Linked DNA regions of Homo sapiens: all the other regions are linked to region 2. The links come from fine-mapping of genetic effects on gene expression. A gene starts in region 2. Each other region holds a variant in brackets. All regions are shown on one strand. Distances are from middle to middle. Region 1 overlaps ADAMTS17 (ADAM metallopeptidase with thrombospondin type 1 motif 17). Region 2 holds the start of ADAMTS17 (ADAM metallopeptidase with thrombospondin type 1 motif 17). Region 3 has its middle 200 kb from the start of LYSMD4.

Region 1 (10,346 bases), 110 kb before region 2:
AAATTGGATCATTCTAAGGTGAAACATTCAGTGACATTTGGGCCCCCTTCTCCAATCAGCTTCCTTGGTAGTAATGCTCACAGACACTGTGACTACCACTGGTTCCAAGCCTGGGAGGGGAAGATGGTTCTTATGGAGTATCCCTGAAGACCCCAACAGAGTAGCTCACCACTGACACTGCAGGTGCTGAGGAGCCAGCACAGCTTTAAGTCCTGCACAACCCAACAGCTTGCAAATAGGACGCAAAGATGGTTTCAGGCTATGAATCACTCTCCCTCCTAGGTAGCTCTCCCCACCCCCTCCCCACATTGACAGAAGTGACCATTGACTGGACTCCCAGGCCTCTTATCTAATATCCTGCCCTGCAACTCTGACGTGAAACATGAGTGTTGCTGATGCCTTCCCTTGCAAATTCCTGCCTTACAAATCTCTGCTGATGTCTTGGTCCATGGGACAATCACTCTTATTTCAGTGGCTTCTGTTCTATGACGCACAGTGGTTCTGCCTGTTGACCTGGATGCTCACTTCACATTCAGGAAGTCTTCTCTCTGGACTGAGAACCACAGCAAGGCTGGTCCCGCTAAACTAAAAAGGACCCAGTCTCCTGGCTGCAGTCCAAAGGATCCACCCTCTGTTGACCTCAAAGAATCATATGATGTCCCAGAGGCAACCACTCAAAGGTCACATGATCCGTTGAAGATGCTGACACGCCTCCTCCCACAACAAAACACCCACAGAGCCTCAGGAGAACTAACTGCAAAGTTCCCTCTCCCTGACCAAATGCAAACATCTTCCTTTGAAGTGTAGACAGAGAACGCAAGGGCAACTCTCTTGCAGTGGTGAAGTATGGAGCTCCAGTGAGCAGGTGGACACAGAGCCAAGATGAAAGGCCACAGCACCTTCCCTGACCAGCAGGAAATTGCCACACAGTCACCTGAGATGATCAGTGCAGGGAAAGCCTGCCTGTGTTGGCCTCCCTCACAGCTAAGGAGGATGCACCCACAGCACATCAACTAGCTCCAACTCACTCTGCCCCCACTGCCAACCACCCATCCCATGCTGAAGTCCTAGAAGTTTCCTGGCCAAGCTGCACGAGCATAACCAACACCGGGCACTTAAACATAACCAGGGGCATATTAACTGAGAAGACAACTCAGAATAAGTGGTTTTCTCAGTTAAACTTTCTCCGCAGTTTGGGCTTGCAGAAGAGCACAAACACGTCACGAATGACACCCGCGGTGCACGAAAGCCACACTTGCAGACCCCTATCTTTGTGGTACCTTCAAAGAGAACTCCACATTCTACAGAGCGTCCAGTGGGTCTCCACATCAGATGCGCATCCAGGGCTGAGGGCAGGCTAGATAGTAACAGATTCCTGTGTATAACTCTTTCCAGATGCTGGCTGGTACAGAGTTGGAGGAGAAGTCATCCATGCCATAGACACACGAGCTAATTCCAAACCTCACAGCAGGGAGGGATCTGAGGCCAGCAATGGTGCAAGGAGAGCAAGGGGTGGAGGAAACGGGGTTAGACTGGGATGGTCTGCAAATTGCAATGGCATCATAGCCGAAAAGTTCCTGAAAAGTCTAATTGTCCTGAGGCATCTTCATAACAGCTATCTCAGGCCTGACCACTGGGTTGAGATGGGAGTGACTGGCATTTAACACTTTTTTCGGGTTTGATCACTCAGCAAAAGCTTAGGAAGTATTGCATTTTGAATGAAAGCATTTATTGTTTAAATGAAGGCACCAATAGTGGGTAACGACAATGCTTGGAAGAAACAAAATTATAAAAATGAATTTAAACACACACACACCTAGCTTCGGAAACATGTCCACTGTTGATACCAAACACCTCCTGAAACAGGTGTTGGGACTGCCTGGGGACCCAATTAGGAAGCCATCACTCTGTCTCCCAGCAGCCAGGGGACAAGAACAGCCCACGGGGGGAGGAGACAGAGGGATTAGCAATAAAGCAAGGTATGTCTTGGAAGGCAGCCACCCTTTCCACCTGGTGCTGAGAACTCTGTTGGCACCAAAAGGAATTGTGAAGTTGGCAACCCCATCAGAACACAGAGAGAGCGCCTGCACATCCTGGGAGGAAGATAATCCAAAGCAGTCTTTAAAATAAATACTTCCATCAGGGAATTTAAGTACTTTGTATCTAGCAATGGTGTGCCTCATTATTTTCAGGACCGTGTTATGTTATGGCCTACGTTGCTTCAAATTCTGAACTCATGCCATTTGTCAAAGACAATAAAATACCAAAGGCACAACTACTTATCAGATAATCCAGTGGAAATTTTAATTGAGGCTTCAGTGTTAATTCCTCTTGGCAATGACCCCTATGTCTAACTCTCTGGCTAATTCTCATTTCATTAAAGACAATTCCCAGTGTGCATAAGCTTCTTATTTCATAAACCAGCCACTGGAATCCACAGGGGATAACTGCCTTCCCACAGGAACATCAGCACCTCCCATTCGCTGGCCTGACAGGGACCATGAATGAGGAAGAAAAGAATCCTGGCCAGTTACTGATGGTGATCTGTTTCCTTCTCCACTGACCGCCTGTAATCAAATCCTTTTTCTAAGTGTTACAGAAGCTGATCAGACTTGGGATAAAAAGGCCTTCTCCCAAGCTGATGTCACACAATGTGTAATTTCCTGGTGTGTCCAAGGGTTCTCAGGGCAGGAGTGAGTTTGGAATCACCTACTTGGCTGGTCAGGTGCCGGTTTTTCTTGAACTCACTCAGTCTTGTCCAAAAGGGTCTCAATGGTCTGTTGCCTCCTTCTGAGCTTTGGGTATGCATTTTCTGGCCTCAGATTCGCCCCTGATTGTATTAGGTCATCTTACCGTCATCCTCAGGAGAAGCGAATAATGTGTAGTAATTCCTCATCCTTTTTCTTCCTTTTGAGCCCAATTTAGGCTGAGCACAGACATAGAATAAATCTTGGCATCGTCCTTAGTCTCCACATCTAATTCCTGAACCTTCATTTTACTTGTGAATTATACTTACTCTAGAACTCAACAGAGTAACAAAAATGAATCACGGCGACCTTGCCCCCACTTGAATTGTCTTAGTGTCAAGACCTGTTTTCCCTCAGCTGAAGTAATAAAGAAATTGACACTTCCAATGAGATAGGCAGAAAAATTGGGTTGGGTTGGGGATACCTGGCCAGAGGCAGCTCTAGATTTCATTACAAGGCTCAGAATGGAGAACTTTCCTCACCAGAACTAGGCTAACCCTGGCCTAGCAGCGGAAGCCAATCCACCCGGGCAGGACACCTGCCTGCAGCATGGAGCCAGGGTGGGAGGTGGGCTTCCCCCTGCCAGCACCTCCCCAACTCCTCTCCTTCCCCTCAAGGCAGATGTGAGGTTCAAGTCCCGGGTATCGACCCATCATCCCTGGGCTCTGAAAGCCTGATGGAGATGAAAATAGTGCCAGACATGGAATGAACACTTGGTGTTCCCAGACTCACATCAAGTCATGCAGAGAGGTGACACATCCTCCCAGTAAACCCACCTTCTTCTTAACATGAAACACGCTGGTGGGACGTAGATGCCCAATCGGCTATTCCCTTCCCCTCCTTTTGATGGCAACGAAGGTCTCACGCTGGGCAGCCACAAAGGGCTCTGGCGGTAAGTGCAGGACACCAAGTCACCAGAACTGAAGTCTTCCTGTGTCAGTGGACAAGTTATGTGACCCCACCAAGCCTGTTTCCTGAATAGCAGGAGTGACTTGGCCATTTGGCCCATGCGGGACACCCTGCCCAGGCCCTCCTCTCACTGCCTCCTCACAGTTCTTCACACTGACACCATGGAATTTGCGTCTTCAGGTCTCGGTTGGAGGCGGCGCAGATCGATTCCACTGCAGCAGGTCTCACAGGCAGAGGCCATCTCACACTCCACCCCAGAGGAGGGACGCCGTGAATCTCCAAGGTCCACTGCCCCATGTCAGTTTTTAAAGGGAGAGTATTGAGGTATTCAGTAAATATGGGTTGAATCTGAGGTTCCTCTACCTACTGCACAGATAAAAAAGGGTGTTAAATGGTACAGAAGAGGCCAGGCGCGGTGGCTCACGCCTATAATCCTAGCACTTTGGGAGGCTAAGGATGGTGGATCACCTGAGGTCAGGAGCTCCAGACTAGTCTGTCCAACATGGTGAAATCCCGTCTCTACTAAAAAGACAAAAAATGAGTCGGGCGTGGGGACGGACGCCTGTAACCCCAGGTACTCAGGATGCTGAGGCAGGAGAATCGCTTGAACCCAGGAGGCAGAGGTTGCAGTGAGCCAAGATTGCGCTATGGCACTCCAGCCTGGGCAACAAGAGTGAAACTCCATCTCAAAAAAAAAAAAAATACAGAAGATTAACTCACTGAAAAGTCATATAAGTCGCCGTTTTTTAAGATGGTCAACAGGAGTCACAAACGGAACTGGAAATTCCCTAGCACTGTGTCCTGAGTCCTTCATCTCTCCAAATACCATTACAGGGCAGATGGGCAAGTTTTATTAGCTCGAAAAATATGTTTAAATGTTTTGATTAGTGAAATCAGTTGTATTAATAAAACTCATTGCATCTCTCATGTGCAGTCGATGGGAACACAGTGGGGGCGTGAAGATGCTGGGTCTGTGTTCCCATCACACAGGCAAAGGACAGAGAAACACGCAATGTCCAGCAATAACTGAAAACTAAATGGAGAGGCCGCTTCTGTCTCTCTGAGGAGATGCTCTTGAACAGAGACCTAACGGTGGGAAGAGAGCGAGTTATGGAGATGTCAGGGGGAGAGTGTGCCGGGCCCAGGAAGATTATGGGTGCCAAGCTGGAGATGGAGGCGAGCCTGGCAAGGGAAGGAGGAGGCTGAGGCAGAGGTGGCTTCCCGGGAGTGAGCACCAGGAAGAGAGGTTGGCAGGAGAACCCTGGGCCACATGTCCTGGGCGCCCTACTGTTCTGTCAGTTCTATCTTAAGTGTCTTCAGAAGCTGTTAGAAGATTCTGAGCAGGGAACCCACAGGATCTGGTTTGGGGCTTAAAAGTAACCCTCTGCCTGTCATGTAAGAAAAAACTGTTGAAGAGGAAGCTCCGTGGCAGGGAGGAGACCCAGCAGGCAAGGGCAGCACAGGCCTGGACCGTGGGAGGAATGGCCGGTGTGGTTCAAAGAGGTCTGATCGGGAATATATTTTGAAGGTGGAGTGGACAGGCATTGCAGATGGATTAGAAGTGTGTATCGGGCACCTTCAGAAACAAAGACAGTACAACAGCCAGTCGACTACTAGAAAGAGCTAATAAAACTCGCAGCCACCGTTTTCCACGAGGCAGACAGGCACTGTGCCAAATGCTTTACGTTCGTTCCACATTTGATCCCCAGGACACCGCCTGGCATATGGTAGTCCAGTCCTGATGCTACCAGTAAGGAAGATGAAGGATACGGGCCCACAGTCATGTACTGGGAAGGAGCAGAGCCAGCTGCCTCTTCAAGCCCCTTCTTGCACTCTGTGACCTGTCTCATTGGCCCCATCCATAATCCCTGCTTTTCCAATTCCCTCCAACTTTCCCACACAGGGTGCGCAAAGCTGGGTTTGGGGGAAAACGACTCCTTGGTCCAACACGTGACTGTCTTATTGCTTCCTCTTCTAGGATGAAAACCTCCTGGGGTTTCCACTTTATCTCAAAACATATGTTTACCTTGGCATTCGCAGCTCTGTGGCAGAGGAAACGCTGCAACCAGCCCGTAAGGCAGCCCCAGGGACTCCCCGACCACTCCTCTGACTGCTGCCT[C/T]TCCGGGAAACCTTCCATTCCATCAGCAGCTGAGCCAGGGTGGAAAGGAAGGGGCCATCCCAGCTTCTCCCAAGGCGCCCCCTCCACAGCCTATGCACAGCTGTTTTGTCCTGTTTGATTTTGTAACCACGGGGTAGAGGAGACAATAGAAAATATCTGGAATATTGTGCAACCAAACAAGAGAAAGGCAGTGGGAACATGAGGGAAGAGGCATGAATAAGCTGAATTGGCTTAAGAAGAAAAACAAGGTAATTATGTTCACGGAATAAAACCCCAGAATGCCACTGGAAGAGGGAAAATAGTGCTGGGCCATGACTCCTGCCTCAGCGATTCGAGAACAGGAAGGCAGACGCGGGCCCACGATGAGATAGGATGCAGGAGGTGCTCGGGGAGAAACGGAAGGGAGAAATGGCCTTTATCAGAAGCCTCTTCTGTCAGCAGTGGTGTGACCAGGATTCCATGTGCTAGAAAAGCCATGCGTCATGCTTGTTCTAGGAAGAATGTCAGTAGGGCTGGTGGCAGGCAAGGGCCTGTGCAGTGCTGGCCCCCTGGTTACTTACACAGCTGCTGGGCACCTGGCTTTCCTGAGCATGCAAAGATCCTCCCCACACTGACCTCCCCGACCACCCCACACCATGCACACACATACGGCCAGTAGAGTTGAGCCCTCCCGTCTCTCAGGTGTCATCCATGCCCTCCTGTCTCAGGTGCTGCCCACCAAGACTCAGATCAGTGGTTCTCAAAATTAAGCGTGTGTCAGAATCTCCGGAAGGCTTGCCACATCACAGATGCTCGGCATCACCTCAGAGATTCTGACCCAGAAGGACCCCGAGGAAGCTGAGAATGTGCATTCCTCATACCTTCCCAGGTTTTGCTGATGCTGTGGTCTGGGATCACCCTTTGAGAACCATTCGCTTCGGGGAGCTCTCTTCCCAAACACCACCACGGAGGACTTCCAGGGCCCTCTCTGACATCAAAAGGTGCTGGGGGCACTGAAACAAGAACAACACAGCCAATGATGATGGGGCATTTATTATGAGTTCTGGGCCCTTTACCTCATTCTATTACCTTCAATCCACAGATCAGGAAATGGAAACATGAGGACAAGTAAATTGCCCAGGCTGTACTCAAGGTAGCAGAGCTGGGATCTGAACCAGGCAGAGGCCAGGCTCAAAACCACAACTCCTCCTGCCTCTCTTAAATACCAACATCAAGTTTATGGAAAATCTGATGAGGTGGCTGAACATTTGGGGTAAATTCGATTCCTTGCATGACAGTCAATATCCTAATGATCACAGACATCCACAGTCACCAGTGACTCAATTACCATCTCTAATTTGGGTCAGACGCCAGAGTCGCACAGACTCAGAGCAAGAGAACACAGGAAGTAACTCGGAAATTTCCATCATCACTGCTTTTTGTAAAAAAAGTAAATGTCTACGATATTTGCACAAGTAATCATGAAATGACAGTAAACATTACATTGAGAGAGGTGCCCTATATTCATGTCACCCACGACATTAAAAAAAAAAAAAAAAACCCTAACAAGAGAAGACCCCCAGCCACAATAAGGCAGGGCTTCTCAGAGTGTGGTCCCCACACCAGCACCACCAGCATCCATAGCCCTGCCCAGGCCCACCGAATGCAAACATCTGGGGTGAGGTCCAGCCGGCTATGTTTAAAGGAGTCCTCCATGTGATCCAGAGGCATGTAAATCTACAGAGCCCTCTTACTAACACTGAACAGCTAACATGGACCCTCTTTAAATCTTTACAAAAAACAAACAAACAAACAAAAAAACGGCAGTAGCTCACTCCTGTAATCCCAGCAGCTTGGGAGGCTGAGACAGGAGGATCACTAGAGGCCAGGAGGTTGAGACCAGCCTGGGAAACGCTGTAAGACCTTGTTTCTACATAAAATAAAAACATTAGCTGGGCATAGTGGTGCGTGCCTCTTGTCCCAGCTACTCAGGAGGCTGAAGTGGGAGGATTGCTTGAGCCCAGGAGGTCGAGGCTGCAGTGAGCTATGACTGCACCACTGCACTCCAGTCTGGGCAACAGAGTGAGACTCCTGACTCTAAAGAAAAAGAAAGAAATACCAACTACTTGTTCCATGCTCCCTCTCCTCTGCCCCCAAAACAGAGCCAGGAATGGGTCTGTCACAGGAGGGAACTCTACGGCTGAATCCCATGGTTCCCAGCTTCAATTCTCCTCTCATCTCTGCACAACATGAGATCAGCTCACTTGGAGTAGCTCCCACGATCCTCAGACTCCAATCTGAAGCTGCAAGCCAAATTCCTCAGGCCCCCACAACCCTGCCCCTGCAACATCTTACCCTTTCAGCACAAGCCTAACTGGGGTGTCGGGCCAGCCAGGTTCCTCCCAGCTCCACCATCGTGTCACTATGCAGCCCGGTGAGGAGCCCAGCCTCAGCACCTTCATCTGTGAACTGGCGCCTACAGGAGGCGACTCCATGTGAGGGCCGAGGTCTGAGGACGGCACCAGGCAAGCAGGAGGCTCTCCCTCAGTAAGCCTCAGGCCCCTGGGCTTCTGCTCTTTGCTTTAACTGCTTTTGGGGTCTCACTTCCCTGCCTTTACCTACATTAGGACTCACCCCTGGGAAGCCTCAGCCCTGCCCTGGCTGAGCAGCTCTGTCCTGGCACCCTCCCTAGGAGATCCACACGACGACAGGAAGAGGGTGGCTGGGCATGATGTCCTGGGGCAGGCTGAGCAGACACAAGGACAAGCTTCACAGAGCAGGCATTGTGCAGGAGGGACTCGATGGGCAAGCCTCACAGCAGTCCCGTGGGGAAGACACTGCTGTCTCAATACACAAGTAGGGAAAGGAGGAACGCTGAGGTTTTTTGTTTTTGTTTTTTTTGAGACAGAGTCTCGCTCTGTCACCCAGGCTGGAGTGCAATGGTGCAATCTCAGCTCAGTGCAACCTCCGCCTCCCAGGTTCAAGCAATTCTCCTGTCTCCGCCTCCCAAGTAGCTGGAATTATAGGCACATGCCACCACGCCTGGCCAATTTTTATATTTTTAGTAGAGACAGGGTTTCACGATGTTGGCCAGGCTGGTCTCAAACTCCTGACCTCAGGTGATCCACCCACCTCGGTCTCCCAAAGTGCTGGGATTACAGGTGTGAGCCCACTGTGCCCGGCCAACACTAAGTCTCTTAAGTGACTTGCCCAAGGTCAAGGAAATGGCAGAAGAAAGACTCAAATCCAGGTCTGATTAGGAGCCCTGCAAAAAAGAAGCAAAGACGGAGTGGGCCCAAGGGTACCCAGCTTGCTCCCACTGTGGGACAGCCACTCACCCTGCTGTCCATGGTGGGGACCCTGCCTTTGCTCACAGAAATTAATAGTGTTGGCATAGGCAACCTCAACACTTCTAATGGCCCTGGCCTGCAAACGGGTTGCACATGAGTGTAATGTCCAAATGTCACCTTCTCAGCAAAGCCTTTGGCCACTCCAGGTAAAATTTCAGGTCCCAGCCCCTCCACTTCCCACCCTTCTTATCTGCTTTCCATGTTCCCTTTATCGCCAGCCTCCATCCACACTCTAGAGTGTACTTACTGACTTCACATGAGTTGCATCCCCTCCAGTAAAACATCACCCCACAAGAGCAACGGCCTTTGTTTGGTGCCTTGAGTGTCCCCAGGGCTGGAGCCGGGCCTGGCACACAGTAGGCACTCAATAGAGTTTTACTGAGTATGAATGACGGAAAAGCAGAATGTCGGTGAGGACAAAGATCCGTCCTGAACACAGAATCTGTGATGGACACAGCAAAGGAGAAAACACAGGGTAAAAGCAACGATGGGAATTTAATACCTGCCAAGAACAAAATGAATGGGCACAGGTCTGGCAGACAAGACCAGAGTTAAGCCCTCAGGCTTTGCTGTGAGATAGTTTGATCCCAGCTCTGTCACTCGCGAGTGGCATAATTTCAGACAAGAAATGTATTCTTTTAGAGCCTCAGTTTCCCCATCTGCTCACAGGAATAATGACGCCTCACTTAAAATGCTATCGAAAAGCGAGAAAGGCAGGGCGTGGTGGCTCACACCTGTAATTCCAGCACTTTGGGAGGCCCAGGAGGGCAGAATACTTGAGGTCAGGAGTTCAAGACCAGCCTGGCCAACCTGAAACAGGTGAAACCCTGTTTCTACTAAAAATACAAAAGTTAGCCAGGCGTAGTGGCGTGTGCCTGTAACCCCAGGTACTCGGGAGACTGAGATGGGAGAATCACTTGAACCAGGAGATGGAGCTTGCAGTGAGCCGAGATCACGCCACTGCACTCCAGCCTGGGCAACAGAGCGAGACTCCGTCTCAAAAAAGAAAACGAAATGTGAGAAAGGAAAGACTGTAACCCAACCGCCTGGGGTCAGAGCCTAGCTTGGCTGCTTACAAGCTGTGTGCCTTCGGGCAAGACATCTCCCTCTCTGCACCTCGGTTTTCCCACATGCAGAATGGAGAGAACAGCAGCAGCTCCCGCACACTGTTGTGCAGATTAAATGACCCAAGACCATGACGTTCTCAGCAGATGGTAGCTGTTCTCAGTCTCACTTTCATCA
Region 2 (10,346 bases):
TCAGAGTGAGGTGGGCTGGGCCACCAGACTGACCCCAGTGATTCCAAATAAGAGTCCTACAGCATGTGGCTGTGGCAACAGAAGAGCTATGGTAGGAGGATCCCCGACCTTCTCACAGTCCTTCAAGGTGGCCTGGAACGTGGATCCCTGACCTTCTCACAGTCCTTCAAGGTGACCTGGAACGCGGTTATGGCTTAATGTTTTGCAGCCCAGAGCTCCTTGGTGGTCTGTCTGGTCCCACCATCTCACAGTGTGCCCCTGGCAGGCCACAGCTTTTTCCAAGAAGGGGTGGACACATTCCAGTGGGTGGCCTTCCCAAGCTTTGTGAGTATCATCCAAGAAAGGATGGCCACTGCTTGGCAGACCAAACCCGACAGCAGGGGGCCTCCAGCCCTCCCCTCCTCTCGTTCACTCTTCCTAAAACAAGTCCTCCAGCCACTCACTTCAGACAAGCTGCAAAGATTCTTTTCAGAGCCTGACGCTCATGCTGTTCTTGAAGTGCCCTCTCCGCTATCCTGTCTACCTATGAAGTTCAGCCTGATTCCAATTCCACTGGCCTTCCACGATCCAGTCCTGATCACAGAGGCAGCTGATCCGAACTTACATAAATTCACGAAGAGTGTAAAGGCCTTCCTCAGACACCTGAAGTTCATGCTTTGAAATGATATGCTCATAGAAACACTTCCAAAAAACCCATGCTCTAAAGACTCTTGGAAATGTAAATACAATGAAGAAGCATAAACAGAAAACAATTAATACTTAAGTCTATGGCCTTTGAAGATCCAAAAGGCGCAGCTGGCCCAGCTTTTCAGGATAAGACACCAAGAAAGGAATGCGGCAGGCCCATGCCTCTATCTGCTGTCAAAAGGAAAAGGAGCAAAAATGGAACAGGTGCTTTACTCTCCATGGCCCCTAAACAGCTACGGAATGATCTATTCTAATAATTCGTCTCCTTTAAACAGACAGCAAACATCTCTGGAGACAAACAGCACAGATTCCATGCAACATGGAATAGAACGTGTGTGCCCCCAGCCCAGGCACTCAACACTCTCTACTGAGCCCTTTAGGAGATGTTCAATACAGTGGGACTTACCAGCAATTAACATGATACTCAACATCCGGAACGAAGTTTTGTTGAACGTGGCCACATCCATTCGCTCGTATGCCATCCGTAGCTGTAGCTGCTTTCACACTGAAAGGGCAGCTTTGAGCAGCTGCAACAAAGGCTATGTGGCCCCCAAAGCCTAAACTATTTATTTTCTGGTCCTTAAGAGAAGAAGTTTGCCCGACTCTTGCTCATTTTTAGATACAAGGACACTTCGAAATGCCCCTCCTCCATGGCCACCAAAAATCATCTACTTATAGCCTCCCTTCCCACACCTTATAGCCGAGCCTGTCGTAGCAAATACACACACACACAACTCCACATCTCCACTCACAGAGCTTCTACCACAGTACCACAGTCAAGAGGGACTAACACAACATCATCAGCCACCTGAACTGAGAACCAAAGTCAAAGCTAGTCTGCAATGCAAACTTGGTTAGCCCAAATTCCTGTTGCTTTCTTTTCTTTACGCTTTCAGGACCACCTTGCAAACAAAGGGTCCACCTCCAAGTCACCCCACTGTCTCTTCCCTCCGGCCTTCAGTACGTACAGAGGGGGAAGTGTCCAATGTCCAGCTCACACGAACGGGATGAACAAGGCAGACTAAACAACAGAAGTGTCTGCTCCGGCAGGAATTTAAAAGCTGAAGTCTTAGAGGTACAACCGCCACTGGCACACACTGAACTCAGCCTGTTGGCCAGGTTCCTTTATCTAAAGCACAGCACCCTCACATGGTGCTAAAGGGAAGGACAGTCTTGCCGAGAAGCTGGCTGAGATGCCATCTATGACAGGGCCCAGCCCTCATTCTGCAAGGATTTTAAATCAATGTTATCCAGCTTTCCACCTCGGCGCCTTCACAGATAGCTCCTTGCTGGAAACTTTACACCAAGAAGTATAAACTCTGACCTCTACAGAAACTCACTAAACCGCAGCAAATGGGATTCAGATGTTTCCATGTACAGTACAATGATGTGACTTAGACTTTAAACACTTTGGCAAAAACAGGAAAAATGATGTGGCCCTTCCAGTCCCTCCCAGAACATGATACAGCCTTGACCCGAGCCCTACAGTGATCTGAGCCTTTCTCACTCCTACTTAAGCCTCCTTGCCTACAACCCACATTCCCCGCCCCAGGTCCACATTCCCCGCCCCAGGTCCACATTCCCCGCCCCAGGTCCACATTCCCCGCCCCAGGTCCACATTCCCCGCCCCAGGTCCACATTCCCCGCCCCAGGTCCACATTAGCTCCTTCCTACCAGGCCCCCTCCAAGGGTCTATATCACTTTCCTTGTTTCACCAAAGTTGCCTATTTTTCCCAGCTGAGCAAAAGTCTATCATACCCTAATCAGAACTCAGAAAATTCCTGAAAGGAGAGCCAGACTGATCTAGGAAACTACACACAGAGATACCCGCAGGACTGGGAAGAAAGAGAGGTCTCACATAAGACCTTGCACCCCCAGCCTTCTAGCTTCGTAGATTCTCGAGGACTCGCCACAGACTCTGTGAGTAAGGGCTGGAGAATTCTAGATGGTGGCACAAGAAAAGGTGGAGGTGTGGGGAGCAGTTTCTTGTGCCTGGGAAGGACAGACACAAACTAATATCAGAAACTGCCTCCCCAGAGGCCAGTCATGACAGAAGACAGAGAACCCCTGCGGTTCATGCTCTGGGTCCATACCAAGCTTCGCTGGGGGCAGCCCATCTGCCGGCCATGTGTGCGGCTTTCGGGGCACGATGGAGAAGCTGAGTGCTCGTCTGGGCGCCAGTGTAGCCACATGATCAAGTGTGCGCGCAGGCAGGGCAAGTGCACACAAGAACCCCCCCTCCCCCTGGGAGCACCTGTTCCGGGTGCCTCAAATGCAACAGGCCAGGAACTTCGGGGCAGGGAAGTTACTGCCACAGCAAGGGAGCTCCTGGGGGCAGGAATAGGGTTTATCACCAATGTAAACACCCCTCAGGCCTGGTTGGGGGTGGGCACCAGATAAATGCCTACTAATAGTATAAGGAAGCAAAGACAAACACCCTTTCTCTCCTGTTTCTTACGTTTCAGCTAGGAAGAGTGGGGTGAGCCGTGGCCTGTCTGGGTACCTCTCCAAACTTCCTGTTCCAGGTACAGAGAGAAGACTCAAAAGGAAGGGAGGTGAATGCCCACTCCCCCACCTCCAAGTCCAAGAACATAACACCTACACGTACACAGGTACTCCCGTGACATACACTTTGACACGGCGGTGCAGATGCAGTGTTCTCTACATTGGGGCCAAGGCGCCTCTGTCCAGGGCCCTGACAGTTTCATCCCTGCCAGATCTGCGCTCCCTAGAGCGGGCGGCGTATACCCCACGCAACCCCAGCTCCGCGCGGGTTCCACGGGCTGCAGAGGCGCTGGACTGGGATGCTGCCCCTCCCACCCCCTTTGCCTATAGAGGGTACCGAAGGCCGGGGTGGGGGATGGGGAGAGGTGGAAAGGCAGGGGGTTCCCTCCGGTTCCCCTGGAGGCTGGACTTCCAGCAGAGGCGCCCCACCCCCACCCTCCACGGCGACCACTCTGCGTCGCAACAGACCGGACGGGCCGACCCGGAGGTGGCGCGGGCAGTACCAGGCCGCCGGCGGCGCCGCAGGCGCTGAGCGAGACGAGGGAGCCGGGGTGGCCGAGCACACGGCCCGAGTAGAAGCACAGCTCGGCGGGGCGGCCGCGGCGCCGGGCCGCGCCCGCCTCCTCCACCTCGAAGCCTCGGGACAGGAAGCGCAGGTCGCGGCGCAGCTGAAGGTACAGGTCGCGCCCGAAGGCCGGCAGGTGCAGCAGCAGGGCGCGCTCTCCGGGCCGGGCGCGCGGGGCGGCTGGGGGCGTGCGGGGGCGTCGCCGCCGTCGGGGCCCGGGGGCTGCGGGCAGCGGCGGCAGGTGCACGTCGTCGGGGCGCACCCGCCACGGGAGCACCACCTCCACGTCGGCCGCCGCGTCGCCGACAGCTGCGGGGAGAGAGGAGACGCGTCAGCGCGGCGGGGCCCGCCCGGACGCCCGCCCTCCCGCTGGCCGCCAGCCGCGCCAGCGCGGGGACAGCGCGACCCGGAGCCGGCGCTGCCTTCCCTTCCCTCGCCCGGCACCTCCACGCTGGCCCGCGCCACCCGGGGAGGGTCTCCGGCGCAGCCGCGCGAGCACCTCCCGGAACGGCGCCGCGCATCGGCGAGCGGAGACCCGGCGGCGGCGCGCCTGCCACGGAGCCACCCGATTCCCGTACTCCGGCCGCGGCCCGCGCCTCCTCCGCTCGGGCGCCGTCAGCGGTCCCGCCGCCGCCCCCGGGCCGCCAGGACGCCGCGAGAACGCAGAGGGAAGGTAGCCGCAGGACGCGGGGTGAAGAGGGCTGTGGGAGGGGGCGCTACCTGTGCCCGGGTCCAGTCCCCAAACCAGCAGCAGCAGCACGGGCAGGACGAGCGGAGGCAGCAGGGCGCCGTCACACATGGTACCCGGGACCGGCAGCCCCCCCGGACCGTGGCGGCGAAGCAGGAGCGCGCTAGGCGGCGGCGCCAGCCGGAGTGAAGCCCTCCAGCCTTTGGAAAAAGTAATTAGCGCTGCGGACAAACCCAACGTGGTAAACCCCAAGCCCCGCCTTCCCCTCGGAAGGCGGGAGGGGATTGGGCCCTCGCTTTCCTCCGCCCCGCCTCCTCCTTCCCTACTGGTTGGGATGGGTCGAAACCACAGTGCGTAGTTAGGTTGTCAGCGCTTTCTTACACGTGGTTTCTGGGCAGTGGCGGGGACACGGCACCAGGTGGCGCGCGGGAGCCGACCGGAGCCGTGGGACCCTGGAAGAGCTGGAGGATGCGGGGCTGGTCTTCAGAGCTTGTCCTCATTTTGGAACTCTCTCAGCCTGCTGCCCAGTTTCCCGGGAAGGTAGGGCGGAAATCGCCCCGGCCAAGCGGTTTCATCCAAAACTGCATATAATCTTTACATCTGAAGTTAGGTTTTAGTTGTTTGTGGCCGCAAAGACTCCCAGTCCACTTTCCCGCACACCTGAGTTAGCACCTGAAGGCTATATCCGCGGCGTTTATCCAAACTCTTCACACCTCCTGTCTTCTTTAATCCCACAGGAGCCAGTGCAACACGCATGCTCACACCCTCTTACAGACTGAAAAACTGAGGAAGAGAGAGAGCTTAAGGAAAAACGCTGAAGTTACCCAGAGAGTTCCTGTTGGAGCAGAGGCTAGAATTTGTGATCCTGATTTCTGGCTTGGTGCTTCTTATTAACAGCAGGATCCCCCCGCCCCGAGGGAAGCAGGACTCAGTGTTACAGGTTAGGAAACGGAGGCACAAAGTCCCAAAGCCTAGCCTTGAACGTGAGTCTCCCAGAAACAGAATGAGTTGATCCTTTCCTGCCACAATATAACTGAGGTCTGCAGGGAAGGTGACTCCATTAGCTTGCTGAATAGCATCTTGTAGAGGCTCATGCCTGTAATCCCAGCACTTTGGGAGGCCAAGGCGGGCGGGTCACGAAGTCAGGGGTTCCAGACTAGCCTGGCCAATATGGTGAAACCCTGTCTCTACTAAAAATACAAAAATTAGCCAGGCGTGATGGCGCACACCTGTAGTCCCAGCTACTCGGGAGGCTAAGGCAGAAGAATCGCTTGAACCCGGGGGGTGGAGGTTGCAGTGAGCCGAGATTGTGCCACTGCACTCCAGCCTGGGCAACAGAGCAAGACTCCATCTCAAAAAAACAAAACAAAACCAAACAAAACAAAAAAAACAATTAAGTGTAACCATAACCAATCTCAGGTTTCCCGTCCCTTCCCTGTCCTGCTCTTTTCCATTTTATCATAGCAGAAAGGTTATAGTTCCCCGCTGGATGCTGCTTGAAGCCTCGGAATCTAAATTCATCACAGGATTACATATCATCTGAAGGAATCTATAACACTGGCCACCTTCCCCGAAATATAATGAACCCCAAGGCTGAACAGTGACCCTCCACAGAGGCTTGCCACAAAAGGGGCTGCCCTCACTGCTTGGCACCTACAGTTCTGGGGGCATCTGCACAGGTCCTGCTCTTGGCCAGGCCTGGGGCTGTGTTTCTCCCCCTTGCCTCTGTCCAGGTCAACAACCTCAGATGACTGACAGCTCAGTAGCATTTTCTGGCAGCACAAGAAACCTTGGTGATTGAGGTGATGGACACCTCATTTACCCTGATGGGATTATTACTCATTGTATGGCCATATCAAAAAATTTCATGTATATACATTTTGTAAACATATACACCTACTACGTACTCACAAAATATTAATTTTTTTAAAGATATCACAGTAAGTTTCTTAGTGAATCTTTTTGTCAAAAAGAGCCATTTCTAAGGCCTGCCACTGAAAACCATGGAGTATGGGCCACACCACCTCACAAGCGCAAGTCAGCCTGAAGTAGCCATCACCAACCTATCAAGAACCTATCCAAGATGCTCAAATGCTAAAATTAGTCCATAGGGACATGAAAACTAAAACAGAAAGATACTATTTTATCTCCCAACTAACCAAAATTAAAGAGCTTAGAAAAATCAAGAATTAGAGAGGACACTCTCCTACCTAGGGGTGGAGAGTATAAATTGGCACAGCCACTCTGAGGAACAATTGGGCAAACTGTAAAATTAAAGTTTTACTTTTTAGTTTTAATAAAACTAAAAATGCACACATTCTACAACTCTGTAATTCCACGCTGGTTAATTACTCCAGAGAAACTCTGGCACATGTACAAGAATGTTTGTTCACCAGGGCACCTTATTAAGAGCAAAAAATTGCAAAAACCTGAATGTTCATCGTTACATAAACGGCTACTTGAACACCATTAATTAAAGGAAATACAAAAATCTCATATATGTAACAACATGGACAGATCTCCAAGATCAGTTATCGAATTTTTTAAAAAATCAAGTTGCAGAATGAGGCACACCGAAAAAAAAATGTGTATAAACACACAGACACACATGACATGATCTGCATGGATTCAGATAAGTGTACATAAAATCCAAGAGGAAAGTCTGGAATAATACAAGCCAAACTTTGTTAAGGTTTATTGTTCTTTTTGTATTAATTGCATGCTGAGGAAAGGTACTACAAAAGGAAAATGAACACCTGGGACCCCAATTCACTCTGCCAAAGGAAAAAAATCAAGCTGAAAGCTGAGTCAAGCAATCAGCTGCCTTTTCTTCTGTTCCTAAGCAGACAGCGACAGATAAAAGGTTCAACATCTCCACAGGTAGCTGGTAGAGTAAGAGGGAGAAAGAAGAAATGGTAAAGTGACATGAAGGCAAGACGGTGTTCCGTGACTCCGTGCTGCTCCTGTCCCTGTATTGGATTCCAGCACCAGGGGCCTGTGTCTACTGCTGCACTGTTGAAGACACTGTCACGGTTATCATGGTTGATTCTGGATCTACCAAAGTAGTGCTGCCTTGACCGGGGCCCAGTTCTCATTGCCACACCAGCAACTTCCAGCACCTGTTAACATGGAATCCTTACCTCTGCCTCCTGCCATCTAATCTCCTGCCAGGGCCTCTTTTTGGCAGAAGCTAGCAAGAAGCCTAAGAAAATGTAAGGGAGTCAGAGAATGAAGGTTGCAGACTTTCAGCTTCAGTAAAGAGCAGAACATGGAAGTGGGTATGTGGGGCTGGGAGACAGAGCCGCTGAAGGTCTTAATCTGACCACCATGAGTCTGAATTCCCTTTGCCCTTCATCCTTGTATTCACCAGTCATATTAAAAGTTTAAGCTTCCATGCCTTCCACTTTCTCTTTCACAGCATTTCCTCCACAATACTGTGAACTGCCTTCCCCTACCCAAATCCAAGATCCTCCTCAGTCTTGAAACCTTCCCACTGTGCCCTTAAGAGCTGCTGCTCCATATCCTAGATCTGCTGCCTCTTCTCTGAGCGTTCTGTACTTACGAATGGAACTCCTTTGAAAATGTAAGGTGGCAACAAAATTCACATTTCTCAGCATCTTTTTTCCCCTAAGGATGGTCACTTGTCACAGTTCTGGCCACTGTGATAGAAGGAGAAGCTACTGGCTAGAGTTCTAGCAGAGTTCATTTGAGGAGCTTCCTTCTGCCGCTGTATACCCCTTTTCACTGTGTCTCTTCCTCTTTGCTCCTGACTAGAATTTGCATGTGATTCCTGGAATTCCAGCAGCCATCTCGTAAGCATGAGGAAGAGTGCCAGACCCCTGGGAAGCAAAAAGATCAATGAACTCTGGGTTGCTGATGACATCTTGGAGTCACCATGCCAGACCTGAGCTGTCTACTTCTGCACTTTTTGCTATATCAGAAAAAAAATATACTCTTGTCTCTTTTAAGCTGTTGCTATTTGGGTTGTCTGTTATATGCAGCCAAACTCGACCCCTAACAGACACACATATAGACAACTCCCATCCCCCACCCTGGGCTCTGGGCTCCTCAATTTCCTCCTTCAGTGACCTTCTGTGCTATGCTGCCCCAACTGTCCACTCTCAAATTCACACCCTACACCTTGTCATCACCCCTAGCTGTTCCACCTTCCAAAACTTGAACATCCACCTCTGACCACAGCTTCTTGTCCTCCCAGCATGCTCGTCCAAATGCTCCTACCTCAGAAGGTCTCTCAGTCTGCATCTCCCAACCCACCAGCCTCTCTTCACTTGCCTCCATATCCAGCTTGCATTCCAGGCCCCATGACTCTGAAAACACTCTTGCCAATATGCTCAGCACCCTCCCCTATCCCTTTTCACTGCAGTTGTCATGCAGAACTACAGGCCTGGGTAAACTCAACTCTCTACTCTCACTGAGCATGTGGTTGAGCTCTGAACACCACTGGAGCCAAGCATGCAACAGGGAAATCTGCAATCACCTTCTTCATTTGAGCCATCGCCATGCCCACCATTGCTACTACACTCCTCTGCCCAACTCCCCTTTCTCTCAATGCAGTGCTGATCTCGAACCCTCCCCTTCTCAGCTTCGCATTCCTCATCTTATCCCTTTCTTTTGGCAGTGGACAAGCACGCACTTCACAGAGTCATCCCCTGGTCCAGACTCTTTGCCGCGGTTTGAATGTTTATGTCCCTCCAAAATTCATGGTGAAACTTACCTCATTGTGCTGGTATTAAGAGGTGGAGCCTTTTGGGTTAAGGCCCAAAGTCATGAGGGCTCTGCCCTCATGAATGGAATTAATGCCCTCATTAAAGAGGCTCAAGAGGGCTTCTTGGCCCTTTTGCCCTGCATCTCTTCTGCCATATGAGGACACAGCATTTGTCCTCTTCAGAAGATGCAGCAACAAGGTGTCATCCTGGACACAGAGAGCTTACCAGACACTGAATCTGCCGGCACCTTGACCTTGGACTTCCCAGCCACCAGAACAATGAGAAATAAATGTCTATTATTTATAAATTACCAAGTCTAAGCTATTTTGTCATAGCAGCAGGAATGGACTAAGGCACTCCTCCTCCCAGCTCCAGACCATGTATCCAGCTGTTCAGTTGACCACTTCAAAGAGCGAGACCATGGCATGTGATCCAGTTTCAAGGATGGATGAGAATGTTTCAAATCTGCTTTTGTTTTTGTTTGACTTTGAATTAAGAAATCATCCAGTGGATGATGGAAGGATCATGGGACACTGATATCATTTGGGTACACATTGTACTTGTTTGGTTAACCCTATTTGGATAAACTGTTGTGGTCTGGATTTAGTTGCTTGCAGCCAAGGTCATCTATGATCTAATGTCTTCAGACCATTCACCAGAGTACTATTTCTCCTGCCCAAGCTCCTGATGAGGACTGGCCAGCTGAAAGCCAGGGTTAAATCCAACTCCATGCATGACCCAAGGAACAGCTACTCCCTGATGCTGAACAAGGCCAAAGCCATATACTGTGAACAAGCACAAAACAGAGCCAGGCTGGCATGTGCTTCCGCAAATTGTGAAGCCCAAACAGCTGCCTCTGCTGCAGTTGATGGTGACTTATTAGCAAAGAAAACATTTTCTTTTTGGAAAAGAGTTTTAGATTGGCTTCAATGCTTGGACAAAAAGAGGTCAGCCCTACAAGGCCCATGACACTGAGCATAGCTACAATGTATTGAAAACAGGCATCGCTGATGCCCACACAGCCCTAAAAATTGCATCTCAGTGCCCATACAATGTATAAGTTTAGGCAATTCAACTTCATGGTGAACTTTTCAAGGTTAATTGGTTGAGAAATATCAAAAAAGCATTTGTAAAAGTAATACTTTGATTTTTCAAAGAGTTGATCTTGAACCAA
Region 3 (10,346 bases), 410 kb before region 2:
TGCCTGCTTTCACTGTGTTCACTCTTCAGATTAATAAAATGAAAAGCAATGCTGATAATAGTGGTTTCTTTTCTTTCTGCTTTCTCCAGTAATTAGCTTATGGGGGACACTCAGAGGACAGGATTTAGGATCAGCAGACCTGGGTCTGCCTCCCATCTCCACTGCTAAGAGTTGAATCAGTCCATGCAGGCCACTCCCCATCCTCAGCCTTTTCTTCTGTCAAATGAACAATATAATCCCCTAGTTTTAGGGAATTTTGAGGAATACATCAGATTACCAAATCGTGAGTTCCTTGAGCTGATAAAGAGTGAGCACTTACTGTGTGTAAGGCAACTTTCCTAAGTGCTAGGGATACAAAAGTGAACAAAACACACAAAAAATGTGTCTGTGTGTGTGTGGGGGTTGGTGTGGATGTCCACAGGCATACATGTGTGGTAGCAGACAATAATATAAGAAAAATAAAGTAAAATATATAGTGTTTTAGGTGGTAGTAATTCCTATGTCAAACAACAGCGCCGACGAAGTAGAGGGGATAGGAATGCGTGTGTATGCCTGTGTGGGCACGTTCGCTACCTCTGCATCCCAGGCACCTAGACACGATCTGGCTCAGAGGGGAAGCTCAAAGAATGTTTGATGGATGAATTAACACTCATAGGACACTTACTACCATGCCTGGCGAATAACAGTAGCTTTTGGTTTTAGAATGGATGCAGTTGCTATTGGGCTCCCCTCTTTATGTCCAGTTGATGCAAGTAGGTTAGGGGGTCTCTAGAGGCTCACAAAGCTGTGCTTGGCTCAGAAGTTATCCAGATAAAAACTAGTATAGGAATCCAACTCCCCTCCTCCCTCCATCTTTCACCCCTGCAAATCTGGTGAGCTCCATGAAGCTTTCCTCCCCAGGTGACGTTGTTGCTGCTGTACTTAAGGGACAGCACAGGCCACCTGGGTGTGGGACAGAGCTGACACCTTCCTGTCTGGGCTCTTCCAGCCTTCACTCTAGAACGAAGCGGGAAGCCTCAGGTCCAAGGGGAGAGCCGCCGCAAAGGCCGCGTTGAACGCCGAGGTGCACGCGCAGGTACTGGCTAAGTGCGCGCCAGGGTGCTCGGGAGGGGGCGGGTGCGGGCCGCACTGCCGGGCGGGGTGCGCGAGTGAGGAGGGCGGGGTGCGCGAGAGAGGAGGGCGGGGTGCGCGAGTGAGGAGGGCGGGGTGCGCGAGTGAGGAGGGCGGGGTGCGCGAGTGAGGAGGGCGGGGGAGTGCGCGAGTGAGGAGGGCGGGGTGCGCGAGTGAGGAGGGCGGGGTGCGCGAGTGAGGAGGGCGGGGTGCGCGAGTGAGGAGGGCGGGGTGCGCGAGTGAGGAGGGCGGGGGAGTGCGCGAGTGAGGAGGGCGGGGGAGTGCGCGAGTGAGGAGGGCGGGGTGCGCGAGTGAGGAGGGAGGGGTGCGCGAGTGAGGAGGGCGGGGGAGTGCGCGAGTGAGGAGGGCGGGGGAGTGCGCGAGTGAGGAGGGCGGGGGAGTGCGCGAGTGAGGAGGGCGGGGGAGTGCGCGAGTGAGGAGGGCGGGGGAGTGCGCGAGTGAGGAGGGCGGGGGAGTGCGCGAGTGAGGAGGGAGGGGTGCGCGAGTGAGGAGGGCGGGGGAGTGCGCGAGAGAGGAGGGCGGGGTGCGCGAGTGAGGAGGGCGGGGGAGTGCGCGAGTGAGGAGGGCGGGGTGCGCGAGTGAGGAGGGCGGGGGAGTGCGCGAGTGAGGAGGGCGGGGGAGTGCGCGAGTGAGGAGGGCGGGGGAGTGCGCGAGTGAGGAGGGCGGGGGAGTGCGCGAGTGAGGAGGGAGGGGTGCGCGAGTGAGGAGGGCGGGGGAGTGCGCGAGTGAGGAGGGCGGGGGAGTGCGCGAGTGAGGAGGGCGGGGTGCGCGAGAGAGGAGGGCGGGGTGCGCGAGTGAGGAGGGCGGGGGAGTGCGCGAGTGAGGAGGGCGGGGTGCGCGAGTGAGGAGGGCGGGGGAGTGCGCGAGTGAGGAGGGCGGGGGAGTGCGCGAGTGAGGAGGGCGGGGTGCGCGAGTGAGGAGGGCGGGGGAGTGCGCGAGTGAGGAGGGCGGGGGAGTGCGCGAGTGAGGAGGGCGGGGTGCGCGAGTGAGGAGGGCGGGGGAGTGCGCGAGTGAGGAGGGCGGGGGAGTGCGCGAGTGAGGAGGGCGGGGTGCGCGAGAGAGGAGGGCGGGGTGCGCGAGTGAGGAGGGCGGGGGAGTGCGCGAGTGAGGAGGGCGGGGTGCGCGAGAGAGGAGGGCGGGGTGCGCGAGTGAGGAGGGCGGGGGAGTGCGCGAGTGAGGAGGGCGGGGTGCGCGAGTGAGGAGGGCGGGGGAGTGCGCGAGTGAGGAGGGCGGGGTGCGCGAGTGAGGAGGGCGGGGTGCGCGAGTGAGGAGGGCGGGGGAGTGCGCGAGTGAGGAGGGCGGGGGAGTGCGCGAGTGAGGAGGGCGGGGGAGTGCGCGAGTGAGGAGGGCGGGGGAGTGCGCGAGTGAGGAGGGAGGGGTGCGCGAGTGAGGAGGGCGGGGGAGTGCGCGAGTGAGGAGGGCGGGGTGCGCGAGTGAGGAGGGCGGGGTGCGCGAGAGAGGAGGGCGGGGTGCGCGAGTGAGGAGGGCGGGGGAGTGCGCGAGTGAGGAGGGCGGGGTGCGCGAGAGAGGAGGGCGGGGTGCGCGAGTGAGGAGGGCGGGGGAGTGCGCGAGTGAGGAGGGCGGGGTGCGCGAGTGAGGAGGGCGGGGGAGTGCGCGAGTGAGGAGGGCGGGGGAGTGCGCGAGTGAGGAGGGCGGGGGAGTGCGCGAGTGAGGAGGGCGGGGGAGTGCGCGAGTGAGGAGGGAGGGGTGCGCGAGTGAGGAGGGCGGGGGAGTGCGCGAGTGAGGAGGGCGGGGGAGTGCGCGAGTGAGGAGGGCGGGGGAGTGCGCGAGTGAGGAGGGCGGGGGAGTGCGCGAGTGAGGAGGGCGGGGTGCGCGAGTGAGGAGGGCGGGGTGCGCGAGTGAGGAGGGCGGGGTGCGCGAGTGAGGAGGGCGGGGTGCGCGAGTGAGGAGGGCGGGGGAGTGCGCGAGTGAGGAGGGCGGGGGAGTGCGCGAGTGAGGAGGGCGGGGGAGTGCGCGAGTGAGGAGGGCGGGGTGCGCGAGTGAGGAGGGCGGGGTGCGCGAGTGAGGAGGGCGGGGTGCGCGAGTGAGGAGGGCGGGGTGCGCGAGCGAGGGCGTCCGGCCGGCAGGTGGCACTGTGGCGTCGCCGTGGGCCGAGCCTGGCGAAGCGCTGCTCGCCCGAGATCGCGCAGCTTGGTGAGTGGCAGCGCCTGGCTTTATACTCGCGTCTCGGACACCGATGGTCATCTTCCCACGTCCGTGACTCAGTGGCCTTCCAATGCAGGCTGCGGCCTCTCAGCCCAGAAGGCCCTGGGTTCTGGTACAGGCCTTCCTTGTGGCAGACGGAAGGAAGGCTGACAAAGGGAGTTCACCGGGTTTGCCTGACTTGCCACGCTCTTCTCTCTCCGTGCCAACTTTAACCTGGGAAGCCACACATACCTCTAGGGCCTCTGATATCTTCAGTGTCCCCAAGGCCCATGCTGCTCAGAGCCTCACGTGGCCGCAAACCCAGGTGCCAGTACTTGAGAGTTGCACCTTGAGCGGGAACTGCAGAGGGTTTTAATGGCACCAGCTCCAAACATTTCGCCCACAGCGTCTGCAGTCCTCCACTGCGGAAGGCAGAATAAACGCCCCAAGGGTGTCCACATCCTACTCCCCAGAGCCTGTGAATTTGTCCCCTTACATGGCAAAAGGGAATTACAGTTGCGGATGGAATTAAGGTAGATTAATTGCACACACAGACAGAAACACGCATTTTTGTGTGTTTTGTTCACTGTCGTATCCCTAGCACTTAGGAAAGTTGCCTTACACACAGTAAGTGCTCAGTTAATCTTTATTGACTCAAGGAACTCACAGTTTAGTAATCCGATTTATTCCTCAAAATTCCCTAAAACTAGGGGATTATATTCTCCATCTGACAGAAGAAAAGGCTGAGGATGGGGAGCTTAATGGGTAAGGAGATTAGCCTGGGTCACCCAGGTGGGCCCAATGCAATCACCTGTCCTTATAAGGAAGAGAGGCGAGAGAAAGAAAGAGAGAGAACAGAGAACAGAGAAGGCCGACAGCACCAGGAGGTCTCAGCCCGGTTTTTCTGGCTTTGGGGATGGAGGACGGGCCACGGAACAGGGCGGCCTCTGCCTAGCAGCTGGAAAAGGTAAGGGACTAGGTTCTCCCAACGAACCTCCGGAAAGAAACGCAGCCCTGCCAGCAGCTTCATTTCAGCTCAGTGAGACCTCTTTTTACTCTTTCGACCTCCAGGACTGTAAGATCATAAACGTGTGTTGTTGGAAGCCAGCAAGTTTGTGGTAATTTGTCACAGCAGTCGTGGGCCCACTAAGACACCTGTCGTGGGCCTCGTGTCCAGAGGCCTCAGCTGAAATGCACTGGGGGCCTGGTGGTGTGTGTTAGGTCCACTTGGCTTGCTGTGTTGTTCAAGTCCTCTCATTTCCTTTCTTATCTTCTGTCTGGTTGTTCTTTCCATTATTGAAAGTGGGGGACTGAGGTCTCCGACGATTATTGTAGAACTACTTTTCCCTCCAATTCGCTCCCTTTCTGCTTTGCATATTCTGTTAAGTGCTAAATGTTTATAACTACTTATTCTTGCTGTATTGAATCTCTTCTCAATATATAATGTTCTTTGTCTCTTGTAACCTTGGACAAGATACAGACTACTTAGACTATTGAAAATCCTGACAGTGTATTTGAAACATGCACGTGGACATGGTTTTATTTTTCTCAGTTACTGCTTTCAACTGTGTGCTGATTGAAACTCCTTTCCCCTGGATAGAAGACCTATTAAAATAACCCAACTTTATTCACTAACTTGTCAACTACTTTTGGTCAGTCAGAATTTTGTCTTTGGCCAGAGTTAATCAGCTAACCCGTTGTCCCCAGATCATCAGTGCAGCTTCACCTGGGTACTTCTTATAAATGCAAATTCTCAGGCCCTGCCCCAGAAACTCTGGAGGTGGCCCTGCAGTCTGTGTTTAAGAAGCCCTCCAGGGGATCCTCAGGTGTGATAAACTTTGAGAATCAGCGGTAACCCATCTGCAGAGGTATTTCTATTATTTCAGTAATTATATTTTTAAAATTTTACTTTCTGGAAATACTTTTTAAAATTTACCTATTTTTTCATGTATCTTGATTCTTTTTTTCTGTTTTTATTTCTCATTTTAGGTCTTTAGTAATTTTAAGCCAATTTATCTTGTAGGCTCTGTTTTGATCATTCTACTGGCTTTCCATCCCTGAAGTTTATTGACTTGGAGTTGCCAGTGTTTTGTAATTTGGGATTGTGAGCTGGTCTTAATGGGGACTTCATCTATTGGAATCTTCTGTACCTTACATGAGAGTGGGTGCCTCCAGAGTGCTTTTGGGTTTGCTTCAGCCAGGTGCTTGGCGTTATCACCAGCCCAGGACTGCTTTGCATACCAATGTTTTGACCTGGGGATTTTCTGGCCCATGCATGTCATATACAGCCTAATCCCATCACATGAGTATGGGCCTGTGATGACAAATTGATAGGAGAATCATTTTCCCTACT[C/T]AGAGCCCAGGCCAGGTCTAATATCCCTGACATAACTGCCAGTGGGGGAACTTTCTCTAGATGATGATTACTGAGAGTGCATCCTGCCCTTGAAGGACCCCTCATTTATGAGTGTTGTGGGGCAGGTCCAAGGCTTCCTCTCCAATTCCTCACAGCATTAAAACCCAAGTCCCTAGGCCAGGGATGGTGGCACACGCCTGTAATCCTGGCACTTTGGGAGGCCAAGTTGGGTGGATCACATGAGGCCAGGAGTTCAAGACCAGCCTGGTCAACATGGCAAAACCCCATTTCTACTAAAAATAAATATAAAAACTAGCCAGGCATAGTGATGCACATCTGTAATCCCAGCTACTCGGGAGGCTGAAGCATGAGAATCACTTGAACCCGGGAGGTGGAGGTTGCAGTGAGCTGAGATTGTGCCACTGCACTCCAACCTGGGTGGCAGAGTGAGACTCTGTCTCGAAAAGCAAAACAAAACAATCCAAGCCCCTGAGTTAGTGAGAGGATGCCAGCCCTGGTGGGTGGGGAGATCATGAAGTTGTATACCTAATTGTTGGTTCCCAGTTCATCTTTTGGCCTTTACTTTCTGTTGAACTCTGCATTTAGAGTCTGTTCTATTGCACCAAGCAATTCTGAGCATATTGCGGTGGGTGTTGCCTTTCAGGTTACCTAGTTTCTCATATTGCTGTAAATAGAAGTCCCCTGATAGCTCATTTTGAAACGTCAATCTCTCTTCCCTTCTCCACCTAGTGCAGGCTAAACCTAGTGTTTCCATAGATGGAGAGTGGGGTAGGGGCAGTTGCACATGACTCTCCTGCTTCTTGGCACTTGCTGTTCTAATGTTGGGGTCAGGAAGAGGGGCTGGCAAGGCATGACTGTGGTGAGCTCTCCTCTTGCTTTTCGGGTGGTAACTGCTGGTCCAGCTTATTGTCCACAGCTCTGCATAGGTAGGAGGTGACCAGAAACCCTAGGCATGATGAGGTTCAGCTGCCCCTGTGGACCCCCAGATGGTGGCCTCATGGTGCGTTCTGGTGCACAGGCCTTCTGCTCCATGACGTGACCCCGTAGCCCCGGTCTCCTCTGCCGTTCAGGGCCTTCAGCCTGGGCCCTAGACACGCATGCCACATCCATCTTCTCCCCTCTTGGAACCCGAGGACTCAAAGCTCTACTGGCATCCCCTCTCCTCTGTCCTCATTTCCTGTTTCCCTGGCTACAGGAACACCTGACGATGCCCATTTGCAGCAAACCAACCATGGCTCAGAATTCCTCCAAGCTCAGTCATGCTCTGAGGGCATGTGAAAAGAATGCCCTGCAGAGGAGGAGAGATTTGTTTGTGGCCTTGATGTCATTTGAGATTCTGAGTGTCCAACTGGGGAAATCAACGTTTCCAGGTGGAAACAAAGGGGGCTGCAGAAAGCTGCCCACCCAAGCCAAGGGTCCCTGTTTTGCTGAGTCTAGCGAGGGACTTCCTGTCCCCACTGCTCCACTCCCTCCTCCAGCCCAACTCTCCCTGAGGCAGATGGCAGCAGAGAGAGGAGCAGGGGTTTCCAGGTCAGGCGAGAGTCCTCAGTGGGAGCCTGCTGGGAGGTGGTTTTCTGCCTGAAAGCAGAAGTGGTGGTGTGACAGTCCGTGGACACCAGAGTAGGGACAGAAAAATTGTCTCAGACCCCATCTACAATAAAAATGTATACAAAGGCCTCCCATCCTAGGGGCAGGTATGTGCCTAGAAAGTACCCCTTCTGGCTCTGCCAACAGCTGTACCAGCTTCATTTGCTGGAGGTGAAGAGGCGGCCACATGACCCTGGACTGGCCGGCGTGGTGGGGTCGGCACGCAGGTCTTGACTGCAGCAAGTTCTATGTGTTTGTGCACAATTAGCCAGATAGCCTCTCCTCTGGGGAACCAGTTCATTCCAAGCCAAGAGTAGATGAGTGGGCCCTGTGCCAGGGAGACAAATGACTGGTGACACCGTGGTGTTTCACTGAAGCTCTGCTGGGGGACCCATCACAGCCTCTGCCTGAGCTGCTGGCTTTCAAGTGCCCTGGGGCTGAGCCCTGGGAATATCCTTGTTTATCTGCAGTTGCTGGCCTGGCTCCTCTTCCCCTTTCTCTATTCCTCCCTCTCTTCTCTGGGGAGCAAGCGGCCCACCCCCACCCCTGTACCACTGGGTCCTGAATGTCCAAAAAGCCAAGGAGGTTCTGGCCTCAACTCAGCCTCTCCTTGAGGCAAATCACCTCACTTGGGAGTGGGGGTTCTTCAACTTTACACATCCCGGTTACCCAGGGGGCGTGGTGAGCATCGGATGAAAAACTGGGAGGGGGAACTTGAATGCTGCTTCTGAACGCGTATCCGGGGTGAGAGCTCATCTCCCTCCTGGATCCTGTCTTCCTGCACCAAATTGCCAAGGCCAATGCTCTGCCCCTTGGGTAGGCCAGTCCACCCCCCTTCCTGTCCACCCACCCCAGATGCCAAGTCTGTGGTGGGGTGGCCCATGCTGGGGCATGAGAAGTTTGGGGGATGAGGAGGAGAACCATATCCACCAGGGAGGACCCGGGGTGAGGAAAAGATGAGACAGGATGACACTCAGGAGAGGCCGCCTTTCAGGAGATGGACCTCAGAACGATGGCTTTTCCTTGATAACTCTAGACCTTGAGCTACACTGGCCTCTCTCTGAGCCTGCGCCAGCCACAGGGATGTGAAGGTTGAGATATTCCATACGTGGTTGGCTGACAGGTAGCTGAGTACAGCCATTGTAGAGGGGGATCTCGCTCTGCTTAGTGACATTGATACCTGTATCATTCAAGTGCTAGACATTTTGTTCCTGGGCATATGTCCCAAAGACTTGCACACAAAGCGACCGAGAAGTGATTTACCACAGTATTGTTTGGGGACAGTGGAGTTAGAGGCTGGCATCCATCACTGGGGAATGGGTGAGTAAAATGAGATTGTCACATGGATGACCCACAGCCACAAACAGGGTGGACACCCATCACTGTGGCTACAGCCTTAAAAATAGCGTGAGTGAGAAAAGTAAGAAGCAGGACAAAATCTCTAACACTGCATCATTTGTAGGAACCTGAAAATACATACCTATCAATCAACTTGTCAGGTTTCTCAAGTGTGCGGAGAAAAAGAAAGATAAACATTAAATGCAACAGTAGGGATGAATGTGCAAAGGTGGGAGTGGAGAATTGGGATAAAGAGGAATAAAGTAAAGCACAGTAGGAGCAGGACCTCACATGGAGAAATTGTGCTAGCACACCATGAACTGAGCAACTGGTTGACTCTGCCCCTGAAGGAAAAGGAGCAGTTAAAGCCCTAAAGAAGTGAATGTCAGCTGCAGAGAAGGGATACGCACTATTCATCACTAAAGCATGGGCAAAACTGTGATCACAGGGCCAGCCCCTCCCTCTGCTCCCATCCACACCAACAGCACCAACTGTTGGCTAGGTCTAGAGCAGAACTCTTCCCCTTTGCCTTCTAAGAACAGACTCTGAGACGTGGTGACTGCTCCAGGGCAACCTCCCTCTTCCCAAATGACACCAGAGGATCTCTTTGAGTGGTGAAGGCTCAGCATCTTCATTAGCTCTCCGATTTAGAGATGGCCAAGCTAAAATCTACAGCACCTAGCTCAGTGCCTGGCAGAAAGTTGATCCTCAAATGATGGATGGATGAATGACCATACCTGCTTGGCAGCTGCTTAGCTTTGGTTGGGCCAGAGAAGAATCAGTCAAATGATCCCTATGGTGTGCTGAACACTGCAAAGTTGCCAGAATAAGACCCTGTGCTTGCTCTTGAGGTGTTTGCCTAGTGTTTCTCAACTAGGTTACATATGTCGTGGTCCCAAAACTTGTCTTGGCCATCTAGTATGTGCTGGGCTTTTGCTACCAGTTGGGGTAAAGAAATGAGTACAATGGGTCCTAGATACAGACATAAAACAGATAACCTGCAATATGAGGAGTGACTGAGATACGCCAAGAGTGTGGGGAGTGCAGGGAATGTAACTGGCAGGCAGTGGACCTAATGAGTGAGTCCTGAAGGTGTCAATAGCCCAAAAAACAAAATTATGAGTTAGGAAGATTTGTTCTTTTCAACTGCATATGAAAATATTTGCCAAAGAGGATCTCTACAAGTTTGAGCAGTAGCTGGTTTCTTTTTTCTTTTTCTTTCTCTCTCCCCTCGACCTTCCTTCATGGGTGATTTGGGACAGAGACAATGCCATGGGCTCACCAAATCATATTTCACTTTCCTCTCCCTGGGCACATTGGAAGACTTTTCCAGCATGACTTGTAATTAAATTGGAGCTATATGACCATAGTTTGGCCATTGTGGTGCAGGAGGAAGTAAGGTGTACAACTTTCAAGCCAGCTATAACCTCCCTTGAACCATCATCCATTCTCTCTTGCCTTTCCACAGTGACCTCAGTGGGTATATATTTACATGGCAATGTCACAAGATGAAGCTTGGATCCCAAAGTCACCACTCAGAGAAATTGCCCAGGAGAGCTAGTCAGCCAGCACTGGGTGTGATATGAGTCACTGAGATGTGGGTTTATTTGTTCCTGCAGCAAAGCCTGTTATATCCTTACTAATATGCTAGGTACACTGCTTTCCAAAGTAGCTATTTTGAGGAACCACAGCTCTTCTTAAAAAATTATGCCAATTTTATTTATTTATTTATTTGAGACAGGGTCTTGCTATGTTCCCAAGGCTGGGTTGC

The links. PIP is the estimated chance that this variant, and not a neighbour inherited with it, causes the effect.
Region 1: its variant is fine-mapped to the expression of ADAMTS17 in left ventricle (GTEx, PIP 0.93).
Region 3: its variant is fine-mapped to the expression of ADAMTS17 in whole blood (INTERVAL, PIP above 0.99).

What each region holds. Positions count from the first base shown.
Region 1 is chr15:100,228,987-100,239,332 of GRCh38, forward strand. The region is part of intron 7 of ADAMTS17 (ADAM metallopeptidase with thrombospondin type 1 motif 17); the gene reads right to left. Among named protein-coding and RNA genes, the nearest start is that of ADAMTS17, 110 kb to the right of the region's middle. The variant C/T (reference allele first, on the strand shown) is at 5,776.
Region 2 is chr15:100,337,344-100,347,689 of GRCh38, forward strand. ADAMTS17 (ADAM metallopeptidase with thrombospondin type 1 motif 17) reads right to left here and starts at 4,632. Exons shown (of 22, transcript NM_139057.4): 1 at 4,478-4,632; 2 at 3,696-4,066. The coding sequence starts at 4,556. It overlaps SPATA41 (spermatogenesis associated 41), which reads right to left. Exons shown (of 2, transcript NR_028139.1): 2 at 7,114-8,284. RefSeq lists an enhancer at 2,966-3,484.
Region 3 is chr15:99,925,274-99,935,619 of GRCh38, forward strand. No RefSeq gene overlaps it. Among named protein-coding and RNA genes, the nearest start is that of LYSMD4, 200 kb to the left of the region's middle. RefSeq lists an enhancer at 3,091-3,385 and a silencer at 3,107-3,166. The variant C/T (reference allele first, on the strand shown) is at 5,630.